Homo sapiens: one gene and its partners. The protein of the gene in region 1 interacts with the protein of each later gene in a pairwise test. Each region holds a gene or a part of one and is shown in the gene's direction. Other genes may lie near its edges.

Region 1 (3,653 bases):
TGGTTTTGAAGTCCCTTCTTGAAATTTGAGGAGGCTGGGTGCGGTGGCTCATGCCTGTAATCCCAGCACTTTGGGAGGCCGAGGCGCATGGATTGCTTGAGGTCAGGAGTTCAAGACCAGCCTGATCAACATGGTGAACCTCCGTCTCTACTAAAAATAAAAAAATTAGCCGGGCATGGTGGTGAGCACCTGTAATCCCAGCTACTCAAGAGGCTGAGACAGGAGAATCTATTGAACCCGGAAGGTAGAGGTTGCAGTGAGCCGAAAGCACGCCATTGCACTCCAGCCTGGGCAACAGAGCGAGACTCCATCTCAAAGAAAAAAAGAAAAAGAAAAAAGAAATTTGAGGAGTTTGGTATTGGTGTTGGGAGTTTTTTTCCTCCATTGCCCCAAACTTATGGACTGTTTTCCCTCTTGTAGGAACTCCTGGATATGATGATTGCTGAAGAGGAAAGCCTGAAGGAAAGACTCATCAAAAGCATATCCGTCTGTCAGAAAGAGCTGAACACTCTGTGCAGCGAGTTACATGTTGAGCCATTTCAGGTCCGTGGCAGCCCACAGGGTCTCTGGTGATCTGTCTGGGGCCTGAGACTTAGAAAGCAACGTTGACTTGGGCCTGCAGATGGAAGGCTTCCTCGTAGGGATGGAGCTAGACGTAAGAAGTGGGGAAAACATGCTGTGTAGTTAATTAGGCCCAGCAGAGTAATTCTCACCTCTGTAGAGAGTTGCCCTGGTAAGAGGTGAAGCAACTAATAGATGATCAAAAAGAAGCTGCTGCTTACCATAGTTTTGCTTTGTAGGGAATATGAATTTTTTTTTATAAACGCTGAGAAAAAGGTAGGCATAGATGGTGCTGCAGTGTTCTTTCTCTGAAAGAAAATGAAAACAGGAACAAAAGTAACTAATGATTAAAAGGAATACTATGAAAACACCAACCTTTGTGGGTTTTATCATACCCAGAAGCTGCATACCACTGAACCAGCCAAAATGGCTTCTTCAGAAGAAATGTCTCAAAAGCTGGAATACTGGGAGTGCATAGTCCATTTCAGAGCATGCCATGACATCCATCTGGGTATGGAGCTGAGAAGTGGCTATATTGTGGTCCACTGCAAGTCAGGGACTTGAGTGAGGACACAGCAAGGATGAAATGAATAACAGATGGGGTCCTGAAAATCTCTGCTTAGAACCAGTAAAAATAGTGCCAGGATCATAAAAATTAGGACAGATGTGGAGCTTGGAAAGACAATGAGTACACCCATAAGGTTCTCAGGTCCCTCTTCCTGTTACAGGAAGACCTGCCTGGATATCTATTTGGAGTTAGCTTAGGAGGGAGATCACCTTTAAAGGGCAAAGGATAATTCATACTTGGTAGCCAAGAGCAATCAGGCAGAAGAGAACATGAAGTGGAGCTTCCTGGAGTCAACATAAATGTCATAAATATAATTGATTTTGGACATAGTTTCTCTTTCTTTTTTCACATTCCATGTGAAATTGGGCGAGAAGTGAGGTGTACAACGATCATCTCCCTTAAGTTACCTGATGTTCCTAGTTCACAATGTTAAATGAAATTGTGTAAATGTATAGGACATTTAAGAAAAATGTATATGTCCTATAAAAAAATGCCACTTTTTTTTTTCTTGTTAACCAGTTAGGAGTAGAGCAGGGACTACCAGATGGGTTTTTGTTGCTAAGGTGAGACGATGTTCATAGGATTAGCAGGATGAGTATTTAGATATGAGCTAGGCATGCCACCCTATAGCTAACCCAAAGCAAGCTTTCCAGCCAATTTACACTGTTATTTCTTTATTTATTTAGAGACAGAGTCTCGCTGTGTTGTCCAGGCAGGAGTGCAATGGTGTGGTCTCGGCTCACTGCAACCTCCGCCTCCCGGGTTCAAGCGATTTTCCTGCCGTAGCCTCCCGAGTAGCTGGGATTACAGGTGTCCGCCACCATGCCTGGCTAATTTTTCTATTTTTAGTAAAGACGGGGTTTCACCATGTTGGCCAGGTTGGTCTCAAACTGCTGACCTCGTGATCTGCCCACCTTGGCCTCCCGAAGTGCTGGGATTATAGGCGTGAGCCACCGTGCCTGGCTGCCAATTTACACATTCTATAAAAGTGCCTGGTGCCTGGAGTAGTCTAATCATAGAGACAAAAGGTAGAATGGTGGTTGCCAGGCTTGGAGAAGGGAAAAAATGGGGACTTATTTGTTTGAGTATGAAGTTTCACTTTTGCAAGAGGAAATGAGTTTTGGAGGTGATGGTTATGATTGCACAACAATATGACTGTACTTAATACCAATGAACTGTACACGTAATGGTTAAGATGGTAAATTTTATGTTATATGTGTTCTACCACAAGTTTTAAAATTGGGGGGAAAAGTACCCTGGTACTTACTCACTTTTCCTCACTGGGACCTTCCTTAGGAGACCCTCTTTGTGCCATATTCTGTTGACCATGAGTTGACTTACTTGTTAGTTTAACTGAAAGTCTGTCATCCACGCCTTCTTATGTTGTCCTTCTCTTCCTCTGAAGGAATTCACTTGGAATCTTATAACAGTGGTACGTTGTCTTATTCAGGAAGAAGGAGAGACGACCATCTTGCAACTAGAAAAAGATTTGCGCACCCAAGTGGAATTGATGCGAAAACAGAAAAAGGAGAGAAAACAGGAACTGAAGCTACTTCAAGAGCAAGATCAAGAACTGTGCGAAATTCTTTGTATGCCCCACTATGATATTGACAGTGCCTCAGTGCCCAGCTTAGAAGAGCTGAACCAGTTCAGGCAACATGTGACAACTTTGAGGGAAACAAAGGTACACTGCCTACATTTGTTCTTCCTAAAAGTCACTTTGGTTTTCCTCTAGGTATCTTGTAATTGCTTTGTTTTAAAGGCTTCTAGGCGTGAGGAGTTTGTCAGTATAAAGAGACAGATCATACTGTGTATGGAAGCATTAGACCACACCCCAGACACAAGCTTTGAAAGAGATGTGGTGTGTGAAGACGAAGATGCCTTTTGTTTGTCTTTGGAGAATATTGCAACACTACAAAAGTTGCTACGGCAGGTACTGTCTTCTCAAATTATGCCCTAGGATCTCCGTAGTATATAGCAGTTTGAACAAAACTGACAGCTGTTTCTTCAGTCTTAAATAAGGAGACAATGTAAGGTAAGAGAATGAGGGAAGCTAAGGATAGTAATATATGATATACAACCTTGATTTTTGTTTAACAGTTAAAAAACCTTTATATGGCTCCAAGAAAATGAAATTATAGATGAAATAATATTAGTCATTTGAATTAGACTAGTGTTTAATTAAAATTTTTTTCAGTTCTAAATTTGAATGCTAATTCTTGGGGTCTGAGATCCCGACAGCCTTACAGCTCGTGTTTAGGAGGCATGAAAACATGCTACTTTGAACTCTCATGAAAGTGCCTCCTCCTCTACTCCAGACATTTCTTTGCGGGAGGCTAGAGGGCTAGCCTCTGTGCTGCTGCTTTGCCGTGAGTGACACTGGCTTTCTATGCTGTAGCTGGAAATGCAGAAATCACAAAATGAAGCAGTGTGTGAGGGGCTGCGTACTCAAATCCGAGAGCTCTGGGACAGGTTGCAAATACCTGAAGAAGAAAGAGAAGCTGTGGCCACCATTATGTCTGGG
Region 2 (3,653 bases), on another chromosome or scaffold:
GGCGGGCGCCTGTAGTCCCAGCTACTCGGGAGGCTGAGGCAGGAGAATGGCGTGAACCGGGGAGGTGGAACTTGCAGTGAGCCAAGATTGCGCCACTGCACTCCAGCCTGGGCGACAGAGCAAGACTCCGTCTCAAAAAAAAAAAAAAAAAAAAAAAAAAGAAAGAAAGATGAAAGCTGATGGTAGGACGTTAGGTTTAGTAGCTCAACATCCAATTCAGTAAATATTTGCTAAATCCCCTTATGCTAGGCACATGGAGGATGTGGAGGTCAATCCCATCTCCATATCCTTCGAGGAACTCAGAGCTTAATTTGCAAATTACTGCATTTGACATCTTTAAATGAATTCATATCTTATGTTTGCCTTGGCTGCAGAGTGAAGCCACTGATTCTAATCTGTTTTGTTGTGTCCCTAGACTTCTGTTAGGTGCCTGGATTAGAAACCTCAGATTGCTTCCTAAGCCTTTTCATCCATTAATTCGCAAGTCCCTGAGAAAGACCCCGTCTTATGTAACAGAGAGTAGCAATACTTGACAATAACAATAAGGTGCCTAATGGCTTACAAAAATGCCTACACTTGCTTACACATGCTTTTACTCATTTAATCTTATCTGTGTCCCTTCAAGGAAGGTAAGGTGCAGATTAGGATCTCTGTTTTATAGTCGAGGAATCTGAATGGAAGCCAAGAAGCCATGATGCTATTGAGTGGCCCATTTCACGTTGAAATCCAGTCTTCTGTCTTCAAATTCAGTGTACTTACCACTATCCTGCCCGGATTGTATTTATTCAGTATTTCCTGAGCACCTAGAATGTGTCAGTTCTGTTTTAGCCTGGAGATATCATGGTAGAAAGGTACAGAGTCCCTTGCTCTCATGCAGCTTATATTCTACTGGCAGCAAACAGAAAAATACAGCAGTAAATGAACAAGGGAATTTGGATGAGGAATAAGTGCTGGGGTGAAATCCCATCTCTATTAAAAATACAAAACTTAGCTGGGTGTGGTGGCACGTGCCTGTAGTCCCAGCTATTCAGGAGGCTGAGGCACAAGAATTGCTTGAACCTGGGAAGCAGAGGCTGCAGTAAGCCGAGGTTGCGCCATTGCACTCCAGCCTGGGCAACAGAGCGAGACTCCATCTCAAAAAGAAAAAAAACCCAACAAACAAAAAGAAAAAGAAAAGGCCTTGCTAGGATGGTGACGTTTTTGCTGAGATTTGCTCCCAGGGACGGGCCAGCCATTTGAAGACATGTCAGAAGGAAGAGCAAGGGTAAAGGCTGTGAGGTGGCAACAAGCTTGGTAAGTTCCAGAAACTGCAAGAAGGCTTACAATGGCAGGGACAGGTGAGTCAAAGGCAGAGTGGGGAGGTGGGTGGATGTAGGGGATGGAAGTGGTAGGGAGCGCTCAGATCATACAGGACCTTGTCTGCTAGAGTAATGAGTTGGGATTTTGTTCTAAAAGCTGTGGAAATCATTGGAGGTTCTGGAGAAGGGACGTGGCATGATCTATTTTTGTTTTTTAAAAAAATCACTCTGGCCTCTTTGTGGCAGTGAATTTTAGAGGGCATAGGAGTGGCAGCCAGGAGGCTAGTTAAGAGGTTAGGTGAGAGAAGATAGTGGCTTTCTAGGTTGGTGGCAGTGGAGATGGTAAGAGGACGGATTGGGGATGTGTTTCGGAGGTAGAACCAGCAGGATGGCGGGATGAGGGTGAGAGAATAAGGATGACTCCTGGGTTTTTGGCCTGAGCAATTAAGTAGATGTTAGAGATGCCATCTGCCTCTGAAATGATGAAAGGACTTTTTGGTAAGGGGCCCTATGAGGAAGAATTATTCATAGTTTATTTTGAACCCTGTAGAGGAGAGGCACAAGGTATAAGCATCATACTTTATAGTCTGTGGGGAGGAAATCCCAGATTATGCTGGCAGAAGCTAGCCAGGTGCAACTGATTGAAGCTTGACGTTCTTACTGTGAACCAAAAAAAAAAGTCCTGCTTTTCTACAGTCTGGCTTTTTGCCAGCCTGTGGAGCGGCAGGTGTGGGCTTTGCCAGGGCAGTACCCATCTGTCTTTCTGTCTTGTGCTGTTGGCATTGCAGTGCTGACTCGGGATCTTGGCTGAGGGAGCCTGGCCAGCTCTGGAAGAGGGAGCGGAATCACTAGTGAAGTTCACTTGGTGTGCCAAATGGCCACATTCTCCCTGCCAAAGTGGTTCTTTCCTGGTCACCAAATGACAGTTCTGAAGTTTCAGAGCTTTTGACTTCAGAATCCCTGGAAAACCTATTGTACTCTACCAGAATTCCTAGAGGATTCTTGAATCTCTTCTGAGCAAGGGAATTCGAGCTTCATTGTTATGTATTCCAGTAACTGTACTTGTAAATCTGGGCATTACAGGGTTGTACATTCAACATTGTGAATAGTAAAACTAATAGTCTTATCACTGCCACTTGTTTATTTAATTAAATTTAATAAATTTATTCATTTTGGAGACAGGGACTCCCTCTGTCACCCAGGTTGGAATGCAGTGGTGTGATCATGGCTCCCCCACAGCCTTGAACTCCTGGGCTCAAGTGATCCTTCTACCTCAGTCTCTTGAGTGGCTGGGACCGCAGGCATGTACTGTCGTGCCTGGCTAATTTAAAAAAAAATGTTTTGGGGACGGGTGTGGTGGCTTATGCCTGTAATCCCAGCACTTTGGGAGGCTGAGGTGTGCAGATCACGAGGTCAGGAGTTTGAGACCAGCCTGACCAACATGGTGAAACCCCTTCTTTACTAAGAATACAAAAATTAGCTGGGCGTGGTGGTGCGCACCTGTAATCCCAGCTACTCAGGAGGCTGAGGCAGGAGAATCGCTTGAACCCGGGAGGTGGTGGTTGCAGTGAGCTGAGATCGCACCACTGCACTCCAGCCTGGGCGACAGAGTGAGACTCCGTCTCAAAAAAAAAAAAAATTCTGTAGATGGCTAGGCATGGTGACTCACACCTGTAATCTCAGCACTTTGGGAGGCTGAGGCACGTGGATCACCTGAGATCAGGAGTTTAAGACCAGCCTGGCCAACATGGGGAAACCCCATCTCTACTGAAAATACAAAAATTAGTCGGGTGTGGTGGTGCATGCTTGTAGTCCCAGCTACTTCGGAGGCTGAGGCGGGAGAATCGCTTGAACCTAGGAAGCGGAGGTTGCAGTGAGCTGAGATTGTACCACTTCACTCCAGCCTGGGTGACAGAGTGAGACTCCATCTCAAAAAAAAGAAATTTGTAGAGACGGGTCTTACTGTATTGTCCAGGCGTCTTGGCCACAAGTGATCCACTCACCTTGGCCTCTCAAAGTGCTGGGATTACAGGCATGAGCCGCTAATTTTTTTAGAAAACTTGGTCTCACTCTGTTGCCCAGGCTGGAGTGCAGTGGTGCAGTCATAGCTCATTGTAACCTCCAACTCCTGGGCTCAAGCGATCCTCCCACGTCAGCCATCCAAGTAGCTGAGACTACAGGTGCATGCCACTACACCCAGCTAATTAAAAAAAAAAAATTTTTGTTTTTAATTTTTATTTTTTGTAGAGATGGGGTCTTGCTATGTTACAGGCTAGTCTCAAACTCCTGGCTTCAAGCAATCTTCCTGCCTCAGCCTCCCAAAGTGCTGGGATTACAGGCATGAGCCACAGCACC
Region 3 (3,463 bases), on another chromosome or scaffold:
GCTAATCAGGAGGCTAAGGCAGGAAAATTGCTTGAACCGGGGGGTGGGGGTGGGTGGGGGGGTGGGGGGGGTGGGGGGTGCGGGGCGGGCAGAGGTTGCAGTGAGCCAAGAGCATGCCACTACACTCCAGCCTGGGTGACAGAGTGAGACTCCGTCTCAAAAAAAAAAATTACGTTTTCTTCTGATTAGTTGCTCAACTGTTCCTATATGCTATTCTGAGTCTAATTGCAAGCTCTTTTTTCCTTAGCACAACTCAGCAAGAAAAGGATCTAATAGAAGATTCCTCTGTTCAGAAGGATGGTCTCAATCAGACAACTATACCAGTTTCTCCTCCAAGTACTACAAAGCCATCGAGGGCAAGTACTGCTTCACCATGTAATAATAACATAAATGCAGCTACAGCTGTGGCTCTACAGGTAACTTGAAGATTTTAGTTTATGTTAAAAAAAATACAATAGATTAGATTTTTTTTTTTTTTTCACGTAACACTTTGTTAGAACAGAGTCATTTGGAAGTAGCCCAAGTTGGGGCTGACTATCAGAAAGAAGCTTAAGGAGTGTTAGGGTCACTGCAAAGAGATGGAAAGTTTTAGGCTTTTTTTTGTTTTGTTTTGGAGACTGAGTCTTCACTCTGTCGCCCAGGCTGGAGTGCAGTGGCACGATCTCGCGTCACTGCAAGCTCCGCCTCCCGGGTTCACGCCATTCTCCTGCCTCAGCCTCCCGGGTAGCTGGGACTACAGGTGCCCACCACTATGCCTGGCTAATTTTTTGTATTTTTAGTAGAGACGGGGTTTCACTGTGTTAGCCAGGATGGTCTCAATCTCCTGACCTCGTGATCCACCCGCCTCGGCCTCCCAAAGTGCTGGGATTACATGCGTGAGCCACCGCGCCTGGCCCATTCTGTTTCTTTTGATTGCTTTTTTTCTGTTCATATGGTTAAGTGAAGCTTCTTCCTTACCCACGTTAGGATGAATTTATCATTTTGGGGCTAACATAAAGAGGCCTTGTGCCTCTTGATATTCTTTTGGTTGTATATGTGATACTTAACAAGTCTATAAGTGGCCATTGAGAGGCCACTCCCATTTATCAAGTTCCAGAATTGTTTTATAGTTATATAATTGGGAAAATACAGAAAAGCAGAACAAAACACAAAATTTACCTATAATCCCTAGCATTTTAGTACAGCACTTTTAAAAATAGATTTAGAAGACTATCTTCTCATTCAATGATAGTAATAATACTAAAATAATAGCTACCATTTGAATGCTTACTATATATTATTAGGACTAGTGCTGAAGACTTTACATGTTTTATTCTGTTCTCACAATACCTCTATTCCACCTTTTTCAGTTGAGGTAATTAAGACTTTTAATGAGTCTTTTTATACCATTGGATTCTAACTGCTCTGCTGGGATTCTTTTGTCATCTTTCTTGGGGTTCTTTGTAGCAAGGAAACAGGAGCAGAAAGAACCATTTTATTTCATCATATGGCTATACCATTATTCATCTAATCTGTCCTTTGTTAGGCATTTAGGTCGCTCCCATCATTATAAACAACGCTGACATGAACATCCTTCAGTTAAATTCCTTACGTGAAATTATTGTATAATAAATAAAGATTGTACCAGTGTACTCTAAGCAGTATATATGAGAGTGCTTGTTGCCCTTTTCTGGAAGATAATCTGTGGTTTTCTTATGGTTAACACAATCATTTTTATACTTTATAATTTAAAGAATGTGTACCATAAATGTTTTTTTTTATCATCACTTCAAAGGAACCCCGAAAGTTAAGTTATGCTGAAGTGTGCCAGAAGCCCCCTAAAGAGCCATCTTCAGTTCTTGTGCAGCCACTACGGGAACTTCGCTCCAATGTGGTGTCTCCCACCAAAAATGAAGACAATGGAGCTCCTGAGAACTCCGTTGAGAAACCACATGAGAAGCCAGAAGCAAGGGCTAGTAAGGATTATTCTGGCTTCCGAGGCAATATAATCCCCAGGGGAGCAGCAGGAAAAATCAGGGAACAGAGACGCCAGTTTAGCCATAGGGCTATACCTCAGGGAGTGACTCGACGTAATGGCAAAGAGCAATATGTGCCACCCAGATCACCAAAGTAAAAAACAACAAAACTATTCAAAAACTTCACTCTCTTCCCATTAAACTTGAACTGTGGCTATATTGAACTGTTTTGGAGGGGAGGGGGTAGCCAGGAAGGAAACAAGAGAAAGTACGTCCATTTCATTATGGATTTTGGAGTTGTGAGTGATAGGATCCCAAAATTCATCTCTAATGTGGTTTTTAAATGCTGGAGGATTCCAATCAATATAAATATATATATATATATACACACACATATATAAAAAGTATAATTTTTCTATTTTTGTTTTTGGTTTTAATTTGCAGAGATTTGCTGCCAGGAATCAATTTTGAGGGTTCAGATTTAGCTTGGAAGAAAAAAAAGAAACATACATCCTTCAGTATAGGAGATGAGGGAATGAGAGAAAATATTTTTTGAAGAAGCATTTCTGTAAAATTAGAAATTACTTTTTTTAATCTATTTAAAGTTTGGCTTGAAGAATGCCATCTCTGACTATATGGCCTTGTATTGCAAAGCGGATCAGTGGCTGGGGTGCCTGTTGTGGGTGTGAGTGTGTACAAGAGCGATTGAAGCCAAATCTGTTGTCATGTTAGTAAATGATTTGAAAACTGAATGTAATACTTGAGTAGATTTTTTTTTCTAGTTTGAAATTTAGTCTGTCTTTTTGACCTTACTAATATTTCATTTAACAAGTTGTAAAACTCTGATTGTACTTAGAGATGTGACTACCAATCAGTTTGATACTCAAGGAAAGGGGGTTATTCAAGAAATTGAAAATTTCATCTTGGACCTCAGTGCATAGGTCAAATGGATTTCAGAGGTTTAAACTTCCCTGTGATTCCCCCGAATACCCCCAAAATGAGAAACAAAATTTTTTTTCTTACTCCATTTGTTACTCTCTGTTCTTTGACTGCCCACCCACAGAAAAGCAAAATAACCAACTACCTACTCAATTGTGTGTTTGTAATTGCTTTGAGCAGTCTAGTCAAATCATATAAATTGTTCTAAATTTCAGAATTGAACATTGAAGTATTAACTCTTCTGTTCACACATTTAGAATTTTAGCTCCCAAGATGGTAGGGCAGACTGACCGTACAGTAATTTATTTGTCGTTAGTGTTAAAGATTAAGCATAGTAACTGACTCTTAAGTGTTAAATAATGTAGAAGTAAAAAAATTTTTTTTAAAGGCTTAATTTGGGAGGGGGGACTTATTTCTGTTTACAGTGTATTACCTTCCTTCCCTCCTCTTCTCCCCCCACACCCAACAAAATACAGTTTGGAATTCACTGAAACAGTACCAGCAAGTCATGAGATTTTTTAGTAAAGATGAGAAAGATGGTTGAAGAAAATTAGTGCATAATTTCTCAG

The links.
Region 2: the proteins of PRC1 (region 1) and KIF3B interact in a two-hybrid assay, tested with the Homo sapiens proteins (one large-scale study listed by BioGRID).
Region 3: the proteins of PRC1 (region 1) and LARP4 interact in a two-hybrid assay, tested with the Homo sapiens proteins (one large-scale study listed by BioGRID).

The regions. Positions count from the first base shown.
Region 1 is NC_000015.10:90,980,908-90,984,560, reverse strand, and holds part of PRC1 (protein regulator of cytokinesis 1), read left to right. Parts: intron 1-420; coding exon 421-543; intron 544-782; exon of another isoform or gene 783-869; intron 870-2,470; exon of another isoform or gene 2,471-2,579; coding exon 2,580-2,813; intron 2,814-2,891; coding exon 2,892-3,062; intron 3,063-3,527; coding exon 3,528-3,653. UniProt on the Homo sapiens protein: Key regulator of cytokinesis that cross-links antiparrallel microtubules at an average distance of 35 nM. Essential for controlling the spatiotemporal formation of the midzone and successful cytokinesis.
Region 2 is NC_000020.11:32,280,581-32,284,233, forward strand, and holds part of KIF3B (kinesin-like protein KIF3B), read left to right. Parts: exon of another isoform or gene 1-1,293; intron 1,294-3,653. UniProt on the Homo sapiens protein: Microtubule-based molecular motor that transport intracellular cargos, such as vesicles, organelles and protein complexes. Uses ATP hydrolysis to generate force to bind and move along the microtubule. Plays a role in cilia formation.
Region 3 is NC_000012.12:50,473,752-50,477,214, forward strand, and holds part of LARP4 (la-related protein 4), read left to right. Parts: intron 1-247; coding exon 248-416; intron 417-1,774; coding exon 1,775-2,113; 3' UTR 2,114-3,463. UniProt on the Homo sapiens protein: RNA binding protein that binds to the poly-A tract of mRNA molecules. Associates with the 40S ribosomal subunit and with polysomes. Plays a role in the regulation of mRNA translation.